Regions from separate parts of the Homo sapiens genome. Here region 1 is linked to region 2. Evidence: fine-mapped expression QTL. A gene starts in region 2. The other region holds a variant in brackets. All regions are shown on one strand. Distances are from middle to middle. Region 1 holds the start of LZTS2 (leucine zipper tumor suppressor 2). Region 2 holds the start of SEMA4G (semaphorin 4G).

The links. PIP is the estimated chance that this variant, and not a neighbour inherited with it, causes the effect.
Region 1: its variant is the best candidate, but not a certain one, in a credible set for the expression of SEMA4G in lung (TOPMed, PIP 0.68).

What each region holds. Positions count from the first base shown.
Region 1 is chr10:100,994,248-101,005,433 of GRCh38, forward strand. It overlaps LZTS2 (leucine zipper tumor suppressor 2), which reads left to right and starts at 5,561. Exons shown (of 5, transcript NM_001318100.2): 1 at 5,561-5,705; 2 at 8,250-8,699; 3 at 9,260-9,919. The coding sequence starts at 8,292. TWNK (twinkle mtDNA helicase) reads left to right here. Exons shown (of 5, transcript NM_021830.5): 5 at 1-156. RefSeq lists enhancers at 1,780-2,649, 2,453-2,582 and silencers at 2,733-3,022, 4,813-5,222, 5,323-5,702. The variant A/C (reference allele first, on the strand shown) is at 5,752.
Region 2 is chr10:100,963,511-100,974,696 of GRCh38, forward strand. It overlaps SEMA4G (semaphorin 4G), which reads left to right and starts at 5,994. Exons shown (of 15, transcript NM_017893.4): 1 at 5,994-6,081; 2 at 9,019-9,526; 3 at 9,619-9,767; 4 at 10,037-10,099. The coding sequence starts at 9,403. SLF2 (SMC5/6 complex localization factor 2) reads left to right here. Exons shown (of 20, transcript NM_018121.4): 20 at 1-1,624. RefSeq lists silencers at 2,322-2,616, 5,951-6,010.

The sequences.
Region 1 (11,186 bases), 31 kb after region 2:
GCTGGGTTGCTTGGTCATAGAGCCATAGAAGGAAGCTGTCAGCCCGGAGTGCCTGCCACCTAGACACTGATGCCATTGTGTGCTGCCTCAAGACTGCTGGAGTCAGGACATTTTATAGAGCCTTTTCCAGTTTTACTAAAAAATTTTTCCATTGCCTTTGTTTCTGTGCTTTTTCTTATTCATCCACCAGGTGTCTCCCCAGTCCGTAGCTGAATTTCCCTTTCGGGATTGGGAATGGACGGGTCCCCTCCCACTGCTTGCAGCCTTTGAGCGGTGGGCTTCCAAGGAAGCAGGGACATTAAAGGGCCTTCACACCCCACCTTCCATTTACATCTCTTCTTGGCCTAGGGAAGACAAGATGATCTGTCCTCATACCTAACTTCCCTGAGGATCTCGAGTGATTCCTGGCACAGGTACTCATCACTGGGCCACATGAGCCCAGTGCCCTGCCTGACTGGCCATTCCTCTGTGATGTGAGCCACTCACCTCTCAAGTGGACTTAGACTCAACATATTCTGTCCACCCCCATCCATCTCCCTCCTGTACCCTCTCCGTGTTTCTCATATGCTAATGCGTGCCAGAACTCCTGGGGACTTGTGAAAAATGCAGAAACTAGGCCCCATTCTCCCCCCATCCTCCACCACGTACATTTCTCATTCTGGATTTGAGGACGGGTACAGTAATCCTCATTTTTAACAAGCCGTGGAGGAGACTGTAAAATAGGTGACCCAGAGGGACTGTCAGAAGTATTCCTAAATGATGACACCTTCTCATCTCTCGTCCTCTGATATCCCAAAGTCCCAGTTTCCCTTTGGATTTGCCTGAAAGAGTCGTGAGAATGCAATATGTTCTGAGGGGGCTGGGGAGAATCCTTTTGTAAGGGTTGGGGGAAGGTTTCCTGCTCCGTTTGGAAGCAGGGCTGCCTTGTCAGGCTCTTCCTTTCAACCTATGAAGGGGCTTCTGGGGCCGATGGAGGGGTCTGTGGTCTCTGGAGTGTGAGAACTCTGGTCACAAATGTCTCCTGAAACATCCGGAGCAAGGCTGCTGGAAAGCTGCTCTCTGTGAGGAAGAACCTGGGGGGGTGGGGAGAGCTCCTCCAGGGCCTCCCTTCTTGGGGGTCTCTCCCAGACTGGCTGGAGCCAGGCCTCCCTAATCCCGCAGTAATCATTCCCAGCCGTTGGCTGGTCTAGGCCTCATCCAGAGTCTGTAACGCTGAACGGCAGCCATGCCTTCCAGAGGCACAATACCATATCAGTCATACCTGTAAGGATGTGGGTTCCACATTCCTGTCTCCCTAGAATGCCTGGTGGGTTCTCAGGAGATCTTTTAGGGGTTTCCAGTAGGGGACCTTTGTGAGGTCTCTGTGAACTGGGGATAGAGGGATAGATACAGACTTGGCTGTTTGTCTTGCCCCACCCTTCTAGCAGACACCCCCACACAGCACAAACCAGAATGATGAGGGGGAGGGGAAGCTAATACTCCCCCCAGCCCTACCCGCTGCACAAACACGTTCTATTCCATACCTGCCTTAAATACCCCATATCATGATTCCACCCAGTCTGTTCAGATCCCTGGATTCTAGAAAGCAGTGGGGGGTCCCTAGGGCCTGTGCGGATTCCCTGGGATAGGACTGGTCTGTCTACACCCAACTGGATGTTAAGAATCTCCCTGACTCACAGGTTCGGTGGATTGGGAGGAAAAAAAAAAAATTTCCCTGAGATCTCAGGAAAGGCCTGGCTAAGCCAGGTCCAGTTGGATCTACAGCCTTGTCCTCTAATTGATAATGTATGTCACACTTGGCCATGAGGGGACAGCTTTGGTCCTCTGGCAGCTTCCTCTCTGCTGTGGATGGGTTTAAGAAGAAACAACTCGGCCGGGTGCGGTGGCTTACGCCTGTAATCCCAGCACTTTTGGAGGCCGAGGCGGGTGGATCACGAGGTCAGGAGTTTGAGACCAGCCTGGCCAATATGGTGAAACCCCGTCTCTACTAAAAATACAAAAATTAGCCGGGCGTGGTGGTGCGCGCCTCTAGTCCCAGCTGCTCTGGAGGCTGAGGCAGGAGAATCGCTTGAACCTGGGAAGCGGAAGTTGCAATGAGCCAAGATCGTGCCGCTGCATTCTGGGCGACAGAGCGAGACTCCGTCTCAAAAAACAACTCACCGAGGTCTCCTGTAGCCCATATGGGCCAGATACCTGTAGACCTTCCTACATGCTGCCTTGAGTGCCATGGTGGGAGGGAGCCCTTGGGGCCTCCCTGCAATACAGGCCAACTTCCTGTTTGTGCCTGTGGGTGGGACTTTATGAGTCTTCGAGAAGCCCAGCCATGCCCCGTGGGGGTCAGAACCCGCAGGCCTGCTCACCTGGGCAGATACCTACTCTAGGGAGGGGGCTGTGCTGGTTCTGCCTGGGCAGCCCCACGCTGAGGTGTGTGCGTGGTAGGGGTAGGTGGGAGCTGCTCTGGTGAAACTTGAGCCTTCTTTGTCTGCTTCCCAGGGGTTGTCCCTGTATTTGGGGATTGGGCCAAGAGTGGACCGGGTTGGGCTCCCATCGGAGCAGGGAGGGTGGCAGAGTCAAGCTCTTAGTTTAAGCTTAGTTTAAGGCAGCCAGGTAGCCGAATTCTCGGTCACGTGATGCTCGCCCCCTTCCCCAGGTCAAAAACCAAATCCAGTAAGCTGTGAAGTCAGAGGCCAGAGGGGCAGCCTCGGCCACCGTCGAGTCACTCTTAGGCTGGGCACTGGGTCGGCTGCTGGTGGAGTGCGGGGCAGACCACTCCCCTCCCTGGGTGGGGGGCGCGGCCTGAGCCGCCCCGCCCCGCCCCGCTCCACCAGGTCGGGCCAGGCGGGCGCCGGGAGCTGGGAGCCGGGAGCCCAGAGTTCGGAACCTAGAGTTCGGAGCCGGCTAGGGAGCCGGCGTTGTCGCGGCGAGGAGGTGGGCGCGCTGGAGCAGGAGCGGGGCCGGAACTGGAGCCGAGGCGCAGGTGGCGCTGGGTGAGTGGTGGGGCGGCGGAGGTGCAGGAACTCCCGCCTCCCGCTCATCCCCGCTCCTGAACGAACTTTCCGCTTCTAGGGAAGCTAGGGGTTGGGGTGAGGAGGGGGGTCCGCACTTGGTGGGGTCCCCGCGAAGAGTCCGAACAGGGAAGTGACACGAAAACGCACGCCGACGGGCCCCACACACGCGTGCACAGACCCACGCCCGCACTTGGGACACGCGAACACACATGCACTCGGAAAGGACGCGCCCAGTTGGCCACCCTTGCACTCCCAGGGACAGCGCCAGCCGGCCCGCGCGGACCCACAGCGGGCAGGGCACTCTGCGGTCGCGTATTGGGTGCGGGAAAGGGGCAGCCCTGTGACTACCGACGGGGGCGGGCCGGGTGGGACGCACCCGGAGGTTCCTGCTTCCTGGCCTCCCGCAGGTGAAGACCAAGACGTAAACAGACGCCGAGCACGTGACAGCTCCGCAGACCAGTGGCCTGTGCCCCCAACCCAACCACGGGGCGGAAATCCACCCTAGTCCGGGGCGCGTTTGCTTGGTCCCAGGCCGGACGGCGTTCCATTCTCCGCCTGGAGCGGGGATAAGCCCTCTCCCGGGAACCGGAGCACAGCGCCCCCTGGAGCCGGGGCGGAGCAGGAGGGCCCGGCTGCTGGGCAGGGCTGGGGTTAACTCGGGCTCCTGGACGTCCTTCTCCCCAGCACATTCTTGGTGTCTGCATCCCTGAAGGTTTCGGAGACAGGCCCTTGATGGCAGTGGACAGCTGCCCCCGCCTGTTACCGCCAGCCCAGAGAGCAGCTGCCTGAGCGCCTGCGGGTCCCCTTCCTACCCTCACCTCCACTCCTTGCGGGAGTCGGAGTCTCCTCCCCCCAGAAAATGCATGAGTGTAAACGCTCCCTCAATACCAGAGTGGGCCTGCCCCCCTAGAAAAAGGAGGACGAGCCCCTCCCCCCAGGGAATGAGGGAGTGGGCAGTAGCCCGATGCCTCCTCCTCGCCCCACCCCCTACCCCTACACACACGCTGAGCCCAGCTGCCGCCTGAGCTGGGCAGGCTGCCAGAAAGAGGAGGAGGCTCTCGGTGCCCCAGGAGGCAGGGATCAGGGCAAGGCCAGAGGAGGGGGCTCTGCTGGGGAGAGGGGCTCAGTCTGTTCTTGTGAGGCTGAGGGTCTGGGGTGAGTCAGGGTGGCTGGGCTGTGTTTCCCTTTCCAGGGAAAAAGAAAGAAAAACAACCCTGTCCATGGAGCTAAAAATAGAGCTGAGAGCCGGCCAGGGCTGTGGCCTGGAAGGGGGGGATGCTCCTTCCTGGGGCCCGGGCGAGCTCCGGCAGGCCTTGGCCCTGCGGGGGAGGGGGTGGTTAGGGGAGAAAGGCTGCCTTTGCCCAGGGATGCAGGCATCAGCTGACCTGACCGGGTCACCGAGACCCCTAGGGGAAAGGCTGTGCGGTAGAATATTTGTGAAGCACGGCGTGTAAGAAGTTGTCTGTGTGAGTGACTGTGAATAGAGGCTGTCAATGCGTGAAAGATGGTTAGGAGACTAAGTGCACTTGAGACTGTGACTGGGTGCGAAGGACTGCGGATTGTTGTGGAAGCCTGTGCCCAACAGGCCTGTGACACCGTGTCTGTGTGTGAGGTGGACTGGAAGATTATGGAAAGAAGGAACGCGGACCCACGTGACGGCTGAGACTGCGGCTGCATGTGGGAAAGGTCTTGTGGGTGTTAGGGAGACTGTATTGTGTGCGAGAAGGTGAGACTACTTGACCCTGAGGAAGTGGAATATTGTCTGCCGTGAGGCTGGTGTAGGTTTGGGCTGTAGGCTTGCACCGGTTCGCCCCAGTGATTGTTGGGGAGCCAGGGGCCGCTCCTCTCCGATAAATGACCTCTCTCTTAGCAAGTGATCCCGAGGGGAGGCTGGGGAGCACGCGGTCGCGCCAGAGGCCGGCCTGGGTTCGCGGGGAAAAGGGCACCGTGCCGGGGAGTGGGGCAGGGCCCGCGTGTTGGGGGCGGCTGGGTGTGTTCTCCGAGCCGGCCGCCAGGTGGCGTCGCCTCCGCGAAGCCCAGGTTGCCGCCTCCAACCCGCCGTGGGGCAGGCGCGGATCGAGCCTCGGCCTCCTACTCGGGCTAGGGCGCGGGGTCCCGGCACCGGAGAGTGGGGGACGGCCGGCCATCGGCCTCTCGCTTGGGACTCTGAGGCTGAGAGCGTGTCAGGGAAGCTTCGCCTGGAGAAGCGGAGGGGGAGGGGCGGCCGCCGCCGCGCCGTGGCCCTTTGTGCTGGAACAATGACCAGCTGCCGCTGGCCCCGGGGCCCCGGCTGGGGTTGAGGGTGACCACCGCCGCCGCCGCGTCGAGCCGAACCGAGCCCCCAGACACGCAGTCACAGGGCGTCGGAGGGAGGGCTCCCGACTGCCGCCGAGCAGCCCCTACGTGCGCCCCGGCGGATTCGCGTGACGCGGGTGCTTGCGCGTGTCCGCGCCCCGGGGCGGAGACGCCCCTCGGACCCTCCCCTGCGCGGTGCCGCCCACTCGCACCGGGCGGGGGCTGGCCAGGGCCGGGGGCGCCGCGGAGGCGGAGGCGGGGCTGGGCCGGGCAGCTCCGAGTGGCGGCGCGCGGGCCAGGGCCGGGGCCGGGGCCGGGGCCGGAGCCGGAGCCGGGGCCGGGCGGCGCGCCTGTGGAGCGCTGGGGGCGGCCTGGGGCTGAGCATGGAGCAGCGCGGCGGAGGTGAGGGGGGCCGGGTCTGGGAGGCGGCCTGGGGAGCCCCCAACTT[A/C]TGCGCGGTGGAATCCAGCCGGGGGGACGGCGTTCCCCAGTCGCCCCCACTTTCTGGAAGGGGGGCTGGACTCTGGAGAATGGGTCAGGGGCTCCTGGCTTCCCGCCGCAGAATGGGAACTCGTGATCGCAGACTTGACCCCGCTTGACTGGTCCTTGGAGTTTGGGTGGGAGGGAGACTTTCCCCAACTCTTCAGATCCGTCTCCGGCCCTGAACCAGCTCCAGCCCTCTGCTCTCCTCAGCCCACTAAAAGGGGGGTGCTCCTGGGCCAGAGTGATTGCTCAGGGAGTGCTGGGGAGAATGAGGGGTTCCCATCTCCCACAGCCACAAACGCATTTCTCAAAATGGAGCCTCCACTTGCCCCTCCTTCTCTTTCGGGCTCCAAGAGCGGGAGCCGGCCTGGCTGGGCCTGGCTTTCCAGACTCCTGGCTCTGGCTCCCTGGATGTGTGGCTCTCAGGGCCCGGCTCTGTGGCACTTTGGACTTATGGGCCCTCGGCTCCGTGGGGTTGGGGGGCCCTGGCTCACTGGGTCCCGCTGGCTGTCCCCTTGTCGGCCTGACCCTCGGGCCTCTCCGAGTCTTTGTCTCTTTTGGGTCCCTGTCTTTCTCTGAGCCTGTCTCCTTCCTTCAATTTTCACTTTCTCCGTGCTCGCTGAAGTGGGGAAATGCAACAGAGGTGCCAGCCCCCTTGGCCCCCTAAGAAGTCCCTTCCCCACTGTTCACTCCACACCCTGGAGTGGGCCCAGAGAGGGGAGGGGAGGGGGTTCTCTATCTGCTCTGCTGGGGGCTGGGGTGTGTGGGGTGGTCTGAGCCCCAGCCCTACAGAGGGGCCTGTGGTCACTCCCTGCTCCTGGCCTACCCCTCCCCCAGCTCCCCGCAGCTCCTGCCCCAGCGTGGACACCTCTTCCTGGTTCGCAGTGTCTTTTGACTTGGGTGGGAAGGAGGGCGGTGGATTTAATGGAGGGCATGCGAGAAAGAAGGGGAACAGATCAGGCAAAGGAGTTAGATAATGTCCCACCTCTCCCCACACGCCGAAGAGAGAAGGAAACAGGCTCCCCCCACCAATGGGCCCTCAAGCCACCCAGGCTCCCACCACTCTCATACCTGCGTGCCCACGTTCACAGGCTCCACTGCACCACTCACCTTCCTAGTCACACACAAACACAGGAGCTCACACATAAACTCATGAACTTACTGACAAGTCTGTCCAGGCACCGTCTCTCCCACACACCACAAATTCACTTGTTAGATCCACATTTATAACTTTCACAGGCTTTCTAATGACCCCTGATCCACATACTCTTCTAAGATATACACATGTGAATTCACACATGAACTCATATGTATGTGAATGAACTGATATATCAAACATGCATAGACTCACATGATGTTTTCACACACATTTTCATACACACGTGTTCATTTTCATGCTCCTGTGCATGTAGTCACACAACAAATAACTAAATGCACACACTCCTACTCCCAGTGCAATTCTCTGTCCACTTCTTGGCCCCGCTCTGCATGATGACTTCAGCAGATGCCTAAGTCCTGGTCATCAGCGGCCTCGGGACTGGGACTAGGGAGGGGGTTCCGGGTGGAGGCTTGCAGCTGCTTCCAGGAAGGAGCAGAGCCTGGGGAGGTGGAGCCCTCTTGCCTGGGCTCTGTGGAAGTGAGGTTTTGGAGCAGCCTCCAGAGGTGAAGGCAGGGCATCTACCTTCCTCCCCTCAGGGTTAGTTTGGGGACCTTCTGAAGCTGTAGGGTTTCAGAGAGGTTGGCAGTGGGGCAGAGCCTGTGGAGGCTCCTTCAGGCCTTCAGGCCTCACCGATTGGGTGTGCAGAGGCTAGGAGTTGTCATGGAAACTGGTATGAGCCTGCATCCACCTCTGGGAGGCAGGAGACCCCAAAGGACACCTGTGGACTCCCTAAGAGCCGCGGGTTTCTTATTTAGCCAGATCGACAGAGAGGCAGTTTAGCCGCCTTTCTGTCTGAGAGAAACTGAGGCCCAGCAGAGGGAGGCAGGGCACTGCCTGGCCTTGGCTCTTTGTTCCCTAATTACCATCTGAGGTGCTGATTGCACCCCTGAGGTACCTCTGCCCAAACTGCCCTGTAATGAGGCCACCTGGCTGAGAGGACCAGGGACCTGTGCTTCAAGCTGGTAGAGAAGGCCCCTCCCTCACCTGAGTCCTGGCCTCTGTGGAGGATGCAGGATTGGGCTTGGGCCTGGGTCTTTGCTGCCAGGTGGCCCTGCGGTAATCATCCAGGCCTCCCATGCCTCTCAGCATCTCTGCTGAGTGAATTCACTCCTCAGCCCTGTTCAGACCAGCATTGGGCAGTGTGGTTTGGGGCCCAGGGGGAATTGAGATTCATTCCAGCACTTGAAGGGGGAGTCTTGGTGGGGATCAGGGCTTGTTACTGATGTCAAGGAGGTGTTTGGTCAGGATCAGTGGGTCAGGAGGGGTCTCAAGGTGGAGGGACTCTGACACCACTGCCCTGCTTACAGGTCGCCTGCGAGGCCGCTGGCCAGGCCTGAGCCTCTGCCACCATGGCCATTGTGCAGACTCTGCCAGTGCCACTGGAGCCTGCTCCTGAAGCTGCCACTGCCCCACAAGCTCCAGTCATGGGTAGTGTGAGCAGCCTTATCTCAGGCCGGCCCTGTCCCGGGGGGCCAGCTCCTCCCCGCCACCACGGCCCTCCTGGGCCCACCTTCTTCCGCCAGCAGGATGGCCTGCTACGGGGTGGCTATGAGGCACAGGAGCCGCTGTGCCCAGCTGTGCCCCCTAGGAAGGCTGTCCCTGTCACCAGCTTCACCTACATCAATGAGGACTTCCGGACAGAGTCACCCCCCAGCCCAAGCAGTGATGTTGAGGATGCCCGAGAGCAGCGGGCACACAATGCCCACCTCCGCGGCCCACCACCAAAGCTCATCCCTGTCTCTGGAAAGCTGGAGAAGGTGAGGACCGGCTCTTCCTTGTGGGCCTGGGTAGAACGGGAGTCCTCGCTTGGGAAACTGGAATTTAGAAGCTTATATAGAGGAAAGAGTGTGGGCTCCAGATTCACCAGACCTGGGTCCTAATCCCAGCTCTCTCTCATTCTGGATGTGTGACCTCAGGGAAGTCACTTAACCTGAGCCTCAGTTTCTAGAACTGACATGAAGGTCAAATAATGTATAGCATAGTGCCTAGCACGTAGCATGTACGCAGTAAGTGCTAGTTGCTTACGTTCTGGTTATTCTGCACCAGTTATACGTTTGACTTTGGGCAAGGCCTTTAACCTTGCTGAGCCTCCATTTCCTCATCTGTAATATGGGGATAGTGATCATATTTAGATAATGGAGATAAACTTTTCAAATTGCTTGACACAAAGCTGACACTGGTGGCCACCTCCACCAGTGGCCGCAATTGTTATGAATATATGGGCACTGGGGACCCAAGACGGGAGGGCAGGGAGTGTCATAAGGGCTCTGCAAGATTGGGCAGCTCATCTCCAGTGTCACATGGCACCTCATTTCAGAACATGGAGAAGATCCTGATCCGCCCAACAGCCTTCAAGCCAGTGCTGCCCAAACCTCGAGGGGCTCCGTCCCTGCCTAGCTTCATGGGTCCTCGGGCCACCGGGCTGTCTGGGAGCCAGGGCAGCCTGACGCAGCTGTTTGGGGGCCCTGCCTCCTCCTCCTCCTCTTCCTCCTCCTCTTCAGCTGCTGACAAACCCCTGGCATTTAGTGGCTGGGCCAGTGGCTGCCCATCAGGGACGCTATCCGACTCTGGCCGAAACTCACTGTCCAGCCTGCCCACCTACAGCACCGGAGGTGCCGAGCCAACCACCAGCTCCCCAGGCGGGCACCTGCCTTCCCATGGCTCTGGGCGAGGGGCACTGCCTGGGCCAGCCCGAGGGGTCCCTACTGGGCCCTCCCACTCAGACAGTGGCCGGTCCTCCTCCAGCAAGAGCACAGGCTCCCTAGGGGGCCGTGTGGCTGGGGGGCTTTTGGGCAGTGGTACTCGGGCCTCCCCTGACAGCAGCTCCTGTGGGGAGCGCTCACCACCACCCCCGCCTCCACCTCCTTCGGATGAGGCCCTGCTGCACTGTGTCCTGGAAGGAAAGCTCCGAGACCGGGAGGCAGAGCTTCAGCAGCTGCGGGACAGTCTGGACGAGAATGAGGCTACCATGTGCCAGGTGTGGTCAGAGGCAATGATGGGGAAGGGGCATGGCAGGACATCCCAAGGCCCTGGGATGCAAGCGGCATTTCCATTTTGGCAGGGAACGGGGGTTGGGTAGTTGTAGTTGTGACCCCCCTGCCCTCCCCACCAGTTGTCTGGTTTAATGTGTGGAGTAGCCAGGTGTGGTGGCTCACATCTGTAATCCCAGCACTTTGGGAGGCCGAGGTGGGCGGATTGCTTGAGCTCGGGAGTTTGAGACCAACCTGGGTAACATGGGGAAACCCCATTTCTACTAAAAATAAATTAGCTAAGTGTGGTGGCATGTACCTGTAGTCCCAGCTACTTGGGAGGCTGAGGTGGGCGGATCACTGGAGCCCAGGAGGAGGAGGTTACAATGGACTGACATTCCACCATTGCACTCCAGCCTGGGCGACAGAGCAAGACTCTATCTCAAAACAAAAAACAAAACTTGTGGGGTGGAAAGGAGTCAGAGTGCATGGATTCAAACCTCCCACTGCCAAATACTAGTTTTTGGGCTTGAGCAAGTTGCTTAACTTTACTCAGCCTTTATTTCTTCATCTATATAGGGATATTTCTAGCTTCGTAGGATTATTATGAGGATTAAATAAGGCAAAAGGTGTAAAGTGATTAGACTAATGCCTGGTACCTAGGAAGTGCTATATAAATGCTTGCCTTTTTTAAAATTTTTTATTATTTTTTATTTTTAGTAGAGACAGGGTTTCCACCATGTTGGCCAAGCTGGTCGCGAACCCCTGGCCTCAAGTGATTCACCTGCCTCGGCCTCCCAAAGTGCTGGGATTACAGGCGTGAGCCACTGCACCCGGCCAAGTGCTTGCTTTTTTTATTTTTTGAGACAAGGTCTCATTCTGTCACCCAGGCTAGAGAGCAGTGGCGTGATTTCAGCTCCCTGTAGCCTCAACCCCCTGGGCTCAAGCAGTCCTCTCACCCCAGCCTCCCAAGTAGCTGAGACTACAGGCGCATGCCACCACACCAAGCTAATTTTTGGTCTTTGGAGAGGCAGGGTTTTGCTGTGTTGCCTAGGCTGGTCTCGAACTCCGGAGCTTAAGTGATCCACCCACCTCGCGTGAGCCACCGAGCCCGGTCTGCTTGCTCTTGTGTTTGTTTCTATGATCATCATAAAAGCAGTTAGTATTGTTGTTGCAATTACTATTGTTGTTTAATGGAATCCACCCTTCCTGAGCCCTCGGAAGTGGGCTGCCAGAGCAGACACTGAGTGGGGAGTTGGGAAAACTGCCCAGGAG
Region 2 (11,186 bases):
TTAAAGAGATAGATACAAAGAGTTCTATTTGACAGAAGCTTGAAACTCTGGCATCTATCTGCCCAACGATGGGGGCTTTCGTTCTGTAATTTAATCCTTTGTAGATACATTATTTGTGTGTAATTTTATACGTGTTCATATTTTTCTCATTTTGCATTGTGTAAAGTGTACAAAATCTCAAAGTATAAAATACTGCTTATATTGCTTGTAATTTACAGTGTGTAAATATTTTCTAATTGTGTACATTGATGGGGGGGACAAGTGGGTTATTCAGGTTTTTTTTTAATGACCCTTTTGTATTGCAGTTTCAACAGATAACTGTCCATCAAATTTAAAACCACTTTGATACATTTTTATTTAACAGTTCCAATAAGAAAAAAATCTCTATTTTTAATTATATTTCTCCTTTAGAAAAAAAATACTTCATGGTCCCTCTAAAATAAATGGCCAGACCTCAGTTTAGGCCCTTGTATTTATGACTCTGGTAGAGGTCTTCAGACTCCAGGTCATAGTCCAGTCAGTATTTGCATTTGGGTTCTCATGAAAACTTTGTGACTCTCTTTTAGCACAAGTAGCCCATGGTTTTTCTTCCAAATCAAGTATTTTACTTCTCCCTTGAGTCCCCATGCTTTGTCTCCCTCCTGCTGCTATTGCCCGGTGAATGGGATGGTAGAGAGGGAGAAATGTTCATTGCACAGAGAATGTCAGGCCACTTTGGGGACTTGGCAAACGAAGCTTGCACTGAGTGGTGGTGTGTTTGGCAATATTACTGTGCCAAAAATCACCTTGTCTAATTTTATGGATATGTATGGCAAACTTATTACCCTTCTTGCAAGCTGCACATTAAGGTACTTGTAAGTGTTTATGCTTTTGTGTGTAACTGTTTGCCTTTTCTAACTGCTTTTCTTGTTACTGAAAATATAATTCTACTAGTTTTATCACATTAAGAGGCTCTCCATGCACAAAATGCATTGATGTAGCCGTAAAGTAACAGCATTTGTACATTTTCTATCTCCTGATGGCAGTGGTGCCTTTGTCACCTTTTGGAAGGTTTGCATTTTGTTTCTGCTTTCAAGCGCAAATAGTAGCTTGCTTTCAGCTTCACAAAAATCTCCTCAAATGTAAAAGATACAAAATGGCGTGTTATCATCCAGGCTTAGTTGGAGTATTTGCATTTTTATTTTTATCAAAACAAATATAATTGGTGGGGACTGGCCAGTAATAATGTGTGGCGTCTTTAAGCCAAGAGTAATTTTTAAATTAAAAATGAAAATTTTAAGAGGTAGCCCATTAAACAAGCTACTGAGTTGGAGAATTAGGGGATGACTGTGGTGGTTTGTCGCTAAGGAGGCAACAGTAGGGTCCAGGCGGCGGGGCACGTAGAGCAGTTAGCATGATCCATGGTTATTCCTTACTCATGAACAGTGTCGGCGCACCTCATTATCTGTGCATTTGTTTTTCCTGGGCAGTCCTGTCAGCCAGTTAATCCACCAGCTCTTAGGAAGTAAATACAGATTTTTTTCTTTCCTTTTTTTTTTTTTTAAAGATTTTATACTACATCTTGTTAAAGTCCTATGAATGTGTGTGTGTGTGTGCTATTAAAACTGCTTTTTCTCAGTTTGAACATGTGTTTGGTAATATTTGTTTGGGAGTTGGGGAGGCTAAGTTATCTGGAATGCCCTGTTCCCTCAGCCCACCCCAGTCCCCTGGCTTTTAAACATTTCTTCTTGCTTTGGATTGTCCAGTTTTTTAGCTTGATGTCTCCTGTTTCTGGAAAACATAAAGCCACCATTGTACACAGTTCACTTTTATATAACCCAGTTAATTGCTGTATACTTTGCAATCAGGAATTCAGTAATCTCATTCTTACCTCATTCACTATGTTCATTCCACCATTCATTCTAACAATTGAGTCTCAACTACATACTAGGCACTCTTTTTAGGATTCAGTAAGGATTTGATGGTGAACAACATAGAGAACTCATGAATCTTACCTCCTGGTATCCAGGTTAAAATACTTTCTGTTCTTGGGCAAAGAGAATTAGAAACAAATACCCTTAACCTGACTCCCTTGTTCTTGAGCCCAGGACCAAGAAAGAAGAAGCTGTACAATGCAGAAGCAGGGCTTGAGATCACCTCCAACCTGCCAAGCAGATAGAGATCTGGGTATGCCAACTTGGGAGGCAGAGGTTGAAACCTCATAGGAGGAACTTTGGAGCTCATAGAAGGCCTTGGCATTGTCAGAGGCCTTGAGTTCCAAAACCATGCCAGTATTTCTGCCTTCTGACAGGCTGGCTAGAAAGAGACTAAATGGGAGCATTTTTCTCTGACAGTGGGGCGGAGGGATGAGGGGATGACAGCCCAGGAAGAAGCAGAGACATTGCCGTAAGTACTTACTAGAGGGCAGGCAGCACAGCTTTATGCAAGTTAAGGGCCTTGACCTTGCCCCAAGGCCTGACCTCAGATCCCAGATTCATCATACTAGCCTTTTGATCTTTGCCAAATTACTTAAACTCACTGTTTCCTCATCTGTTGAATAATGGTGTCTACCTCAGGGTTTGTGAGGACTAAGCGAGCTAATGCATGAAAAGTGCCTAGTACAGTGCCTGGCATATAGCAAGAACTCAGCAAATGCTTGCTGCTCTAACGAGGCGTTTCTCTGATGACAGATTTGATCTTAAGCAGACACCTCAGGGTGTACTGACATCTGAGCAAACCATATCTCCAAAAATTATAGTTGTAAGTGTGCCCTATTTCTTTGGATACCGGGAGCTGGAGCTTCTCTGTCCAGCTATCTCTGCTGATTTTTTTTAATTAAAATTTTCACTTTTTAAAAGCCAGCATGCTAAAGCTGAGAAATTGGTGATGGGTGGTGGTTTTCCAGCATTTGTGGGAATGTCCTGACACTCCCTTTCCCTTACTAACCATTCCCTAGGCTGGAGTCAAGAGAGGGCAAACCAGAAGGCCCAGCTTTGGGTCTGACTCCAAGACGACTGGCTGGGAGGAAAACTAAACAGGCTTCTGAGGCACAGTGGAATAGTGAGACTTCCGCATTGTTGCACTGGTGACAGCCCCTACAGAAGAAGCACCTCAGCTGTATATATAGCCAAAATAAAGACCACACCACCTAAAGGGAAAGTGCTGGGCAAACCAGAGATGGAGATGGCAAAGCAGGAACAGAAATGCTGCCACATTGAACAGTAAGCAGGACAACTTGACTAGGCCAGAGTTCTCTTGCTTCAGGGAACCTGCTCAAGTTTCAGGAATTCATACCCACCCCCTTCACCTAGGATCCCTGCTACAGTAAGTAACTGTTCTGTGCAAAGTGGAGCTAAACTCTGGTGTGTAAGTGGCTGACAATCACTGCTGAAGACGGCCAGCACTACCCTCAGCCACTTTCTTACAGCAAAGTTGGGGAAAATAGACTAGCAAAAACAAAACTCATACTTTTCTGTGTGTGTGAAGTTCTCCAGAAGGTTTCCAAATGGAATCCTCTCACAGCCACCCTGCGAAGCAGCCAGGGTAGTGACCTTATGGATGAGTGACAGCCTGTTCAAAGAATGACCTGCCTGTGTCCCAGGATGCAGATTTATGGCTGGGTTAGGGTTAATTTCTTTAGTTGATTTCCAGTTTTCTTTTCCACTGTCTGTCAGTATTCCCCCGTTCTTATTTTACCAGCTGGATTTGCAGAGAGACATACTGTCAATCAAAAGGGCTTCCTATGGGCAGCTCCATTAATTGCTTTTACATCTGATACTCTCATTAGGTTTAGAGATTTTACTGGGAGGCTAGCAGAAGGAAATGGATTGTGGTCTGCTATCAAAAGTACTGAAGTAACTGCCCAGTGATCATTGAAATCACACATTTTGCTCATTTAACAATGTCTGAGTTTGCCATCAGCACCTCAGAGGAGCAAAGCTTGGTTCATAAAGTGAAGTTGAGTGATACTGAGCCTACCACACTGGCCTACTCGCCACCTCCAGAGCTATCTGAAGTCAGCACTGCAGGTTCTGTGAACATTTGGGAAGCTGTGCCTCTTAGCCCCCTGGGCCCCTACAGTTTAATTGCTCTCCTATCTGCTACTGAAGGACCAGCAGTCTTCCTACCCTGCCTCCACTGTTACCACCAACCCACTTTTTGATAAGGACTGCAGATTTATCTTTCTTAGCCCTGCCTTGACTGGTCTTCCCACCTCAGACGTCCTTACTCAGTCCATCATCTCTTTCAGGATTTTCTTCTGTGGTCTTTTTCAAACTACTAGCTGACTTTTCCCTTTTATTTCCCACTAGGAACCCCTCCCCGCCCCCCCCCCCCCCCCAGCCATTTCATCAAATCAAACTCACTGCCCTCTTTCATGCCCCTTCCTTAGTTCCCCAACACAAGCCTGTGCATAAGCTTGAACATTTCTACCTTTGCCAATGGTATTTCCCCTTCTGGCTTACCCTGCTTCCTCCTTCTCAGACTTTTCCAGTCTTGATTGTCCTCTCCATAAACACAAGAATGAACTTCAAGGCAAGTTACTTAATGTCTTAGAGCCTGTTTCCCCATCCATAAAATGGGGCTATAAATTCCTCAGGATGGGATGAGGGTACAAATAAAAAATGAAGCAGGATATTCTTTGTAAAAGTGTGTGTACATTTTTTATTGTGTTTCTCCCCAGCTACCTTCCCTCTCCCCGCCACACACATCCTATTTGCAGAGTGTTGGGGGAGGTGGAACTGTGATGTGGGCCCTGCTGTCTAGCAGTCTGCAGTCACACACAGCCATCCAAACTACGAGATTGTATATGATTCAGTGCCAAACTGTGAGCTTTGGGGAATCCAGAAAGAAGGATGAAGCCTTTCCCAAGTTTCCTTTAGTTAAATGTGCCACTTGAATCCTGTTCTGACTCCTAGGCACATGCAAGAGTCAATCACATATGTTCCTGTGGCCTTTATCATTTTGGTCCATCTCTTGAGCCCACATGAATACTGTCATGGATGGAGGAGGAAGGACCAGGCTGGGTCAGGGCCTGAATGCAGGTTTTGTTTGGACTATAGGGGCTAAGTTCACTTTAATAGGCTGTGACCTATTAAAGGAGGCAGGAACCAAGTTTGCACAGAAGGACCATCCTAGTTGAGTTAAAGGAGTTGGGGAGTTGATTGTGAGGGGTTTCCTAGATTGCTGCTGGGTAAGGTGATTGAATCTGGGAAGGATAGGGTACTTGATTGCCTAGAAGGGTGCACTCTAAGTTCTGGATAAGAATGGTGCCCAAGATGAGCTGGAGGGGAAGGCAAGTGTTTGAATGACCCAGTCCCTGAGGTGAGCCTAGGTTAGGGTTAAGATTTGGTGAGTGAACAGGTGCAAACGCTTGTGGCTTATTTATCCAGAAAAAGCATTTTCTGTGTGCCTTTCAGGTCAGGCTGTTACTTTATCCCCTTCAGGCCTGACCCCATCTCCCCCACGCATAGCTCAAGCTGAACAGCCCCTGAAGCTGGGAATCAAGCCCCTACCTTGTGTTCAGAGCTTCCCTAACGTCCAGTCGCCACCTAGGGTAGCCTTCCCTCCACACCCTAGGCCGAGAGCAGAAGCGGGTGGCAGGAGCACAGGGAGTGAGGTCCAGGTTAGAGGACAGGCCAGAAGGCCCTCCGAGAGGGTCCCCCAACCCCGCAACGCCAGGACAGGTTTGCACGTCCCCAGCAGTAGGCAAGTCAGGGGGGTCCTAGGGTTACAGCGGAGGAGAGGACGGGCTATAAGCATGTGGAGGGTGCACGGGGTGGCGAGGCCACCACCAGGGGGCGATTTCAGGGCCGCAGCGCCTAGAGGTGGGGGGTCGCCCGATGGCCGAAGGCTGTGTGTGAGCCTCGCCCTCAAACCGCCTCTATTGTGCTAGAGTAGGGGGCGCAAAGAAGAGAGTGGCGACCTTCCCCTCACCCCACCCAGTCGGCCCCGCCTTTCAGGACCCCGCCCCACCCCCGGCTCCGCCTCCACCACCCCCCCCCCGCCCCGCCTCCAGCCGCGGCCCCTTCCTCTCGCAGCTGGTGCTGTGGGGCCGCGGAGCCGCGCGTCGCTGTCTCTATGGCCCCGGATCCGAGCGCAAAGGTGAGCAAGGCGAGGAGTGCGGGCGGCGCCCTGGCGTGAGCCTGGGGCTGCGGGCCGGGGGTCGGGCAAGGCCTCCCCCACGTCCATTCTACCCTCCAAGCTGGGCCAGGCCTTTCTCACCACCAAGTCCCCCGGTCCTGCATGACGGCTCTAGAGGGGCGCGGGCCAGGCCTCGGGCTGCGCGGGGTGCAAACCGGCCACCACGGAGTCGGGGACCAGCGCGGGGAGGGGGCCGCGTGGCGAACAGTGTTCCCCAGGATCTGGGTCACGTCTCCCGGCGTCCGGCGGGATCGAAGGAGAGCTTGTCCTCGAGCTGCAGCAGTAGAGACTGAGGTTAGACCTGACGAAGGGAGAGGACCGCGGACTGTCCAGGATGTTGGAGGGAGGGGGTCCCGGGGGAGGGGCTCTCTCAAGCCAGGAGAGACCGCCATCCTACTAGGCAGAGGGAAATACCGCCTACACTAGGCAGGTGGACATCTGGGATGAAGGTCGAGAGCCTGCTGATCCTCCATTGATCCTGTTTGAAGGGTCTCTCCTCCCCAGTTCCCTCCACCCCAAGATCTAATAGAGGAAAGGTGATCAGAGTTCAGGGGGCTGGCCCTGGGGAAGAACCCGAACTGTGGAACTTGGGGTGGAGTGTGGGGCGTGGACTGGAGACCTTAAACCCGTACTTCGCCACTGAAGGGAGGGGTGATATGCTCCGCCCCGCCCACTTAGCCCCGCCCCCTCCCACAGGTTAAGTGGGGGCTGAGAGCTCCAGCCCGTCTCCCACCTTTAGAACCGCAATATACATAGGGGTGGAGGAGTACTAAATTATGCGTTCCATTCCATCTTTGCTGAAGCTAGGGGCCTCCTCCTGCCTGAGTTACTTTCCCATTCCCTCCCTTGTAGAGCGGCCTTGACTCATGCACCCATCCCATCTGCCCATCCAAGGTCAGAAGCCTCCCCCATCACCACACACACACACACACACAACCCCCTCACCACCCCCACACACAAACACACACTTGAAATTGGGCCTTAGAATTGGGACTTTCAGGAACAGAGGCAGGGTTCTGCTCTGCATCTCACCCCAGTGGACACTGGCAGCCTCCAAGCCTATGGCAAAAACTGGACCCCTGTATGCATGTGTGCTTGTCTCTGCATGGATGTAGTTGTGTGTTCAAGAACTGCGTGTGAGCACACATGTACTTGACCCTTCTGTGAACATGATTGCCTGGCCCACTATATCAATGGGTTTGTGTGCATGTCCCTACACATACATGTGTATGTATAGGACCCTCCTGTTGAATAGGTGCACAGTCCTTGACACAAACCCACATGTGTGGGTTTATCTCTCCTCAATGTCTGAGGCTGTGTGACCTGCTGAATGGATGGGCATGTAAATTCAACGTCACATGTGAATATGTATGATTACCTGTGGCTGTGGCCCTCTGTATGAGCATATGTGTGCACAAAACTCCCTGTGAGTATATGTGTGAATGACCCCTGTGAATCCACGTGTTCACAGTCCTCCTTGTGAACATGTGTGTGTGTGTGTGTGTGCACCCATGTGCATGTATATCACCTTCCTAATAGTCACCCATGTGACTCTTAAACTATAAGTGTGACATGCACCACACTGAGTGGCTCCTCTAACCTGGGGCATGTTCCTCCTAGCCATAGTGCTCCCCACACACATGCCTTTTGCACTGAGCAAATAGGAGGTCCCAAAGGTAAACAGGTGTGCCTCCACAGGGAGGGGTGGGGCATGGCCGGCTTGCCTGAAGCTTCCTGCTGTCCCAGATCCCAAACAGGGAGCCTATGCCCTTTCAGGGTCAGGGAATCCTCTTCTCTCCCTTTCATATTTGACTCTACCCCTCAGGGCTCTGCCCCTGCAGTGCTGACCTTTACCTCTTGAATAATTGCTCCTGTTATCCCTCTGGCCAGTTCCTGATTCCTCCCCTCTTTCCAAGGCCAGATAGTTAATATTTGACCTGGGAGAGGAGGCACCAGTGGCACCCTCTGGCCCTGCCTGTGGGTGGCTGATGAGATGGAATGTATTAGGTCTCTCCACACCTCACCCAGCCCAGGAACTCTTCAAGGAACCCCTTGGTGATTAGGAGGCCTGTTACAGGGGTTGGGAGAGGCCTGCCACCCACCCCCATCCCATCCCCAACTGGTTGGCTTGAGGGAGGGTCCAAGATGTGTCGGGAGGGGCCAAGGGCTCAGGGATCCCATCATTTACCTTCTTCACGTTGCTTATGTCTCAACTGGCCTTGCACACTACAGCCTTCTGCACAGACATTATACCTGTGCAACCAGGGGGATCCTAGGTACCCACCCCAATGCCTGTGAATGCCTACTTGCAGATAGGGACACGTGTGGATGCCTAGCCAGAGGGTGCAATACAGACTGGCGTGGGCAGAGATGTGCACCCCCTTGGAGAGGAATACCAAGAAGTTATAATTAAAGAGAAATTCCAGAGGGAGCTCTCAGGCCAGGGAAAAGAAAAAACAAAGGGAAAGCAGGACAAAATAAACAAAGGTCCATTAAACCTCTCTGGTTAGGCCCTCCTGCATAAGGCACCCCCGCAGGCAGCAGGGGCAGCTGCTGACCGAGTTGCATCTCATTGTTGGGAGAAGCAGGCATTCTCTCCAAGAACCCCAGCTCCTTTGACTTGAGGGCCTAGTGGAGCTTCTGACTTGGCCAGAAGAGGGTCATGACCTTGGGTTTCGGGTTGTGGGCATCTAGGGTCTTGTAAGGAAGGTAAGTTCCACCCCAGCCTCCTGCATCAGAGCAAAGCGATAGACAGAATGATTGTGAGTCGATCCTGGCGTGGGCGTTCTGTGGATGCTGGGCCTCCTTCTTTCAGTGCCCCCTGAAGTCTGGGTAACGCCATCCATCTTCCACCCACATACAGATCAAAGGGCTTTTTTTTCCCCGTTTTTTCTTCAGAAAACGGACCTCAGAAAACCAGGACTAGCTCTACTGTCGGGGGCAGGGTGACCCCATCAGTAACCTACAACCCCTCTAGAACTTCACAACTCCCTCTCACCATGGAGTTTGCATTTGATGCAGAAAGGCATGTGATCCCTCCCTCCTTCTGACCTCTTAGCTGGGGATTCCATGGCCACACAACCCTGTGACTCCATGTCCCCCCGATTCCAGGACCCCCCATGGCCCCATGATTCCTTGACTCCTATGACCTTATGACCCCTGACCTTCCAAGTGACTTCCTTGGACTTTGACCCCTGTGACTGTGCTTCCCATTCCCCGCCCCCACAACCTGTGACTCTGGCTCCCTTTGGGGGTCTTGTTAGTCTGGGCCTCCCCAGGAAGATGTGGGGGAGGCTCTGGCCCCTCCTCCTCAGCATCCTCACAGCAACTGCAGTCCCAGGACCCTCACTGCGGAGACCGTCTAGAGAACTAGATGCCACCCCTCGGATGACCATACCCTATGAAGGTTAGACCCTCAACCTCAAAAGGCAGCAGAAGCCAGGGCTGGGGGTGGGGAGGCACCCCAGAACTAGGGCTCACTGTTCCTGCTCTCCCCAGAGCTCTCTGGGACCCGGCACTTCAAGGGCCAAGCCCAGAACTACTCAACACTGCTGCTGGAGGAGGCCTCAGCAAGGCTGCTGGTGGGAGCCCGAGGTGCCCTGTTCTCTCTCAGTGCCAACGACATAGGAGATGGGGCTCACAAAGAGGTCAGGCCCTGGAACCTGGACCACCCAGAGGGTCTCTATGCTTATCCAGCTCCCTGGGACCTCAACTTCCTTAAAACCCTGCCAGCCTTCCATAGCCCCCTGGTCAGACAGCACTGCCCTTCCCAGCCCAGGTGTTCCTTGCATTCAGTGTTCCTCCTGAAATTGATCCCCACCCCAATTTCCCCAACTCTGTGGGGTCCTATTGCCTGGTCCTATGAGTAATAGGTATTGGGGTCAGTGCATCAGCCTATTCCCTTTGCCTCCACTAGATCCACTGGGAAGCCTCCCCAGAGATGCAAAGCAAATGTCATCAAAAAGGGAAAAACAACCAGGTATGTGGTCTGCCCTGTCCCCAGCTCCTTTCCTCCCCTTCTTCCTCAATCAGGGATGCCAGGATTGTTGGGGACACAGATGGGTAGGTACAGACCTGCCAGTCAATCTCAGCAACCACAGTAAACATTGTAAGTATTGCCAGAGTGGCAAGCCATGGGCACAGCATTTTTTTTTTTTTCTTTTTTTGAGGTCGGATCTCACTCTGTCATCCAGGTTGGAGTACAGTGACATGATCATAGCTCCCTGTGGCCTTAAACTCCTGGGCTCAGGGGATCCTTCCACTTCAGCCTCCTGAGTAGCTAGGACCACGGGCACATGCCACGCCCAGCTAAGTGTTTTATTTTTTGTAGAAACAGGGTCTTGCTATGTTGCCCAGGCTGGTCTTGAACTCCTGGCCTCAAGCAGTCCCCCTACCTTAGCCTCCCAAAGTGCTGGGATTACAGATGTAAGCCATTGCCCCCGGCATCTGGGCACAGTACTTCTAATTCAACCATCTGGTGGCCTACTAGTTTGTCCCGCAGTGGCATCTTCATCTCCTCTGGGATCCCAAATAATCAAAATGGCAATAAGTAGGCTGAACGCGGTGGCTCACATCTGTAATCCCAACACTTTGGGAGGCTGAGGGTAGGAGGACAACTTGAGTCCAGGAGTTCAAGATCAGCCTTGGCAACACAGCGAGATCTGTCTACAAAAAAAATACAAAAATTAGCCAAGTATGCTGGCGTGCACCTGTAGTCCCAGCTACTTGGGAAGCTGAGTGGGAGTATCACTTGGGCCTGGGAGGTTGAGGCTGCGTGAGCTATAATTAAGCCACACATTCCAGCCTGGATGACAGAGCAAAACCCTGTCTCAAAAAAACAAACCAACAAAAAACAGTAAGTAACCTCTACAGATGCTTACTTACGATGGGTTACTTACCAATAAAACCATCATAATAAATTGAACCATTGTTAAGTCAGCAACTATCTACAGCAAGTGATGATTTAGCTATTATCTCAGTTAATTCTAAAATAACCCTATGAAATAGTATTATCCTGCATTTTGCAGATGAGAAAAATGAGTCTTTGGTCAAGGAATAGGTCAAAT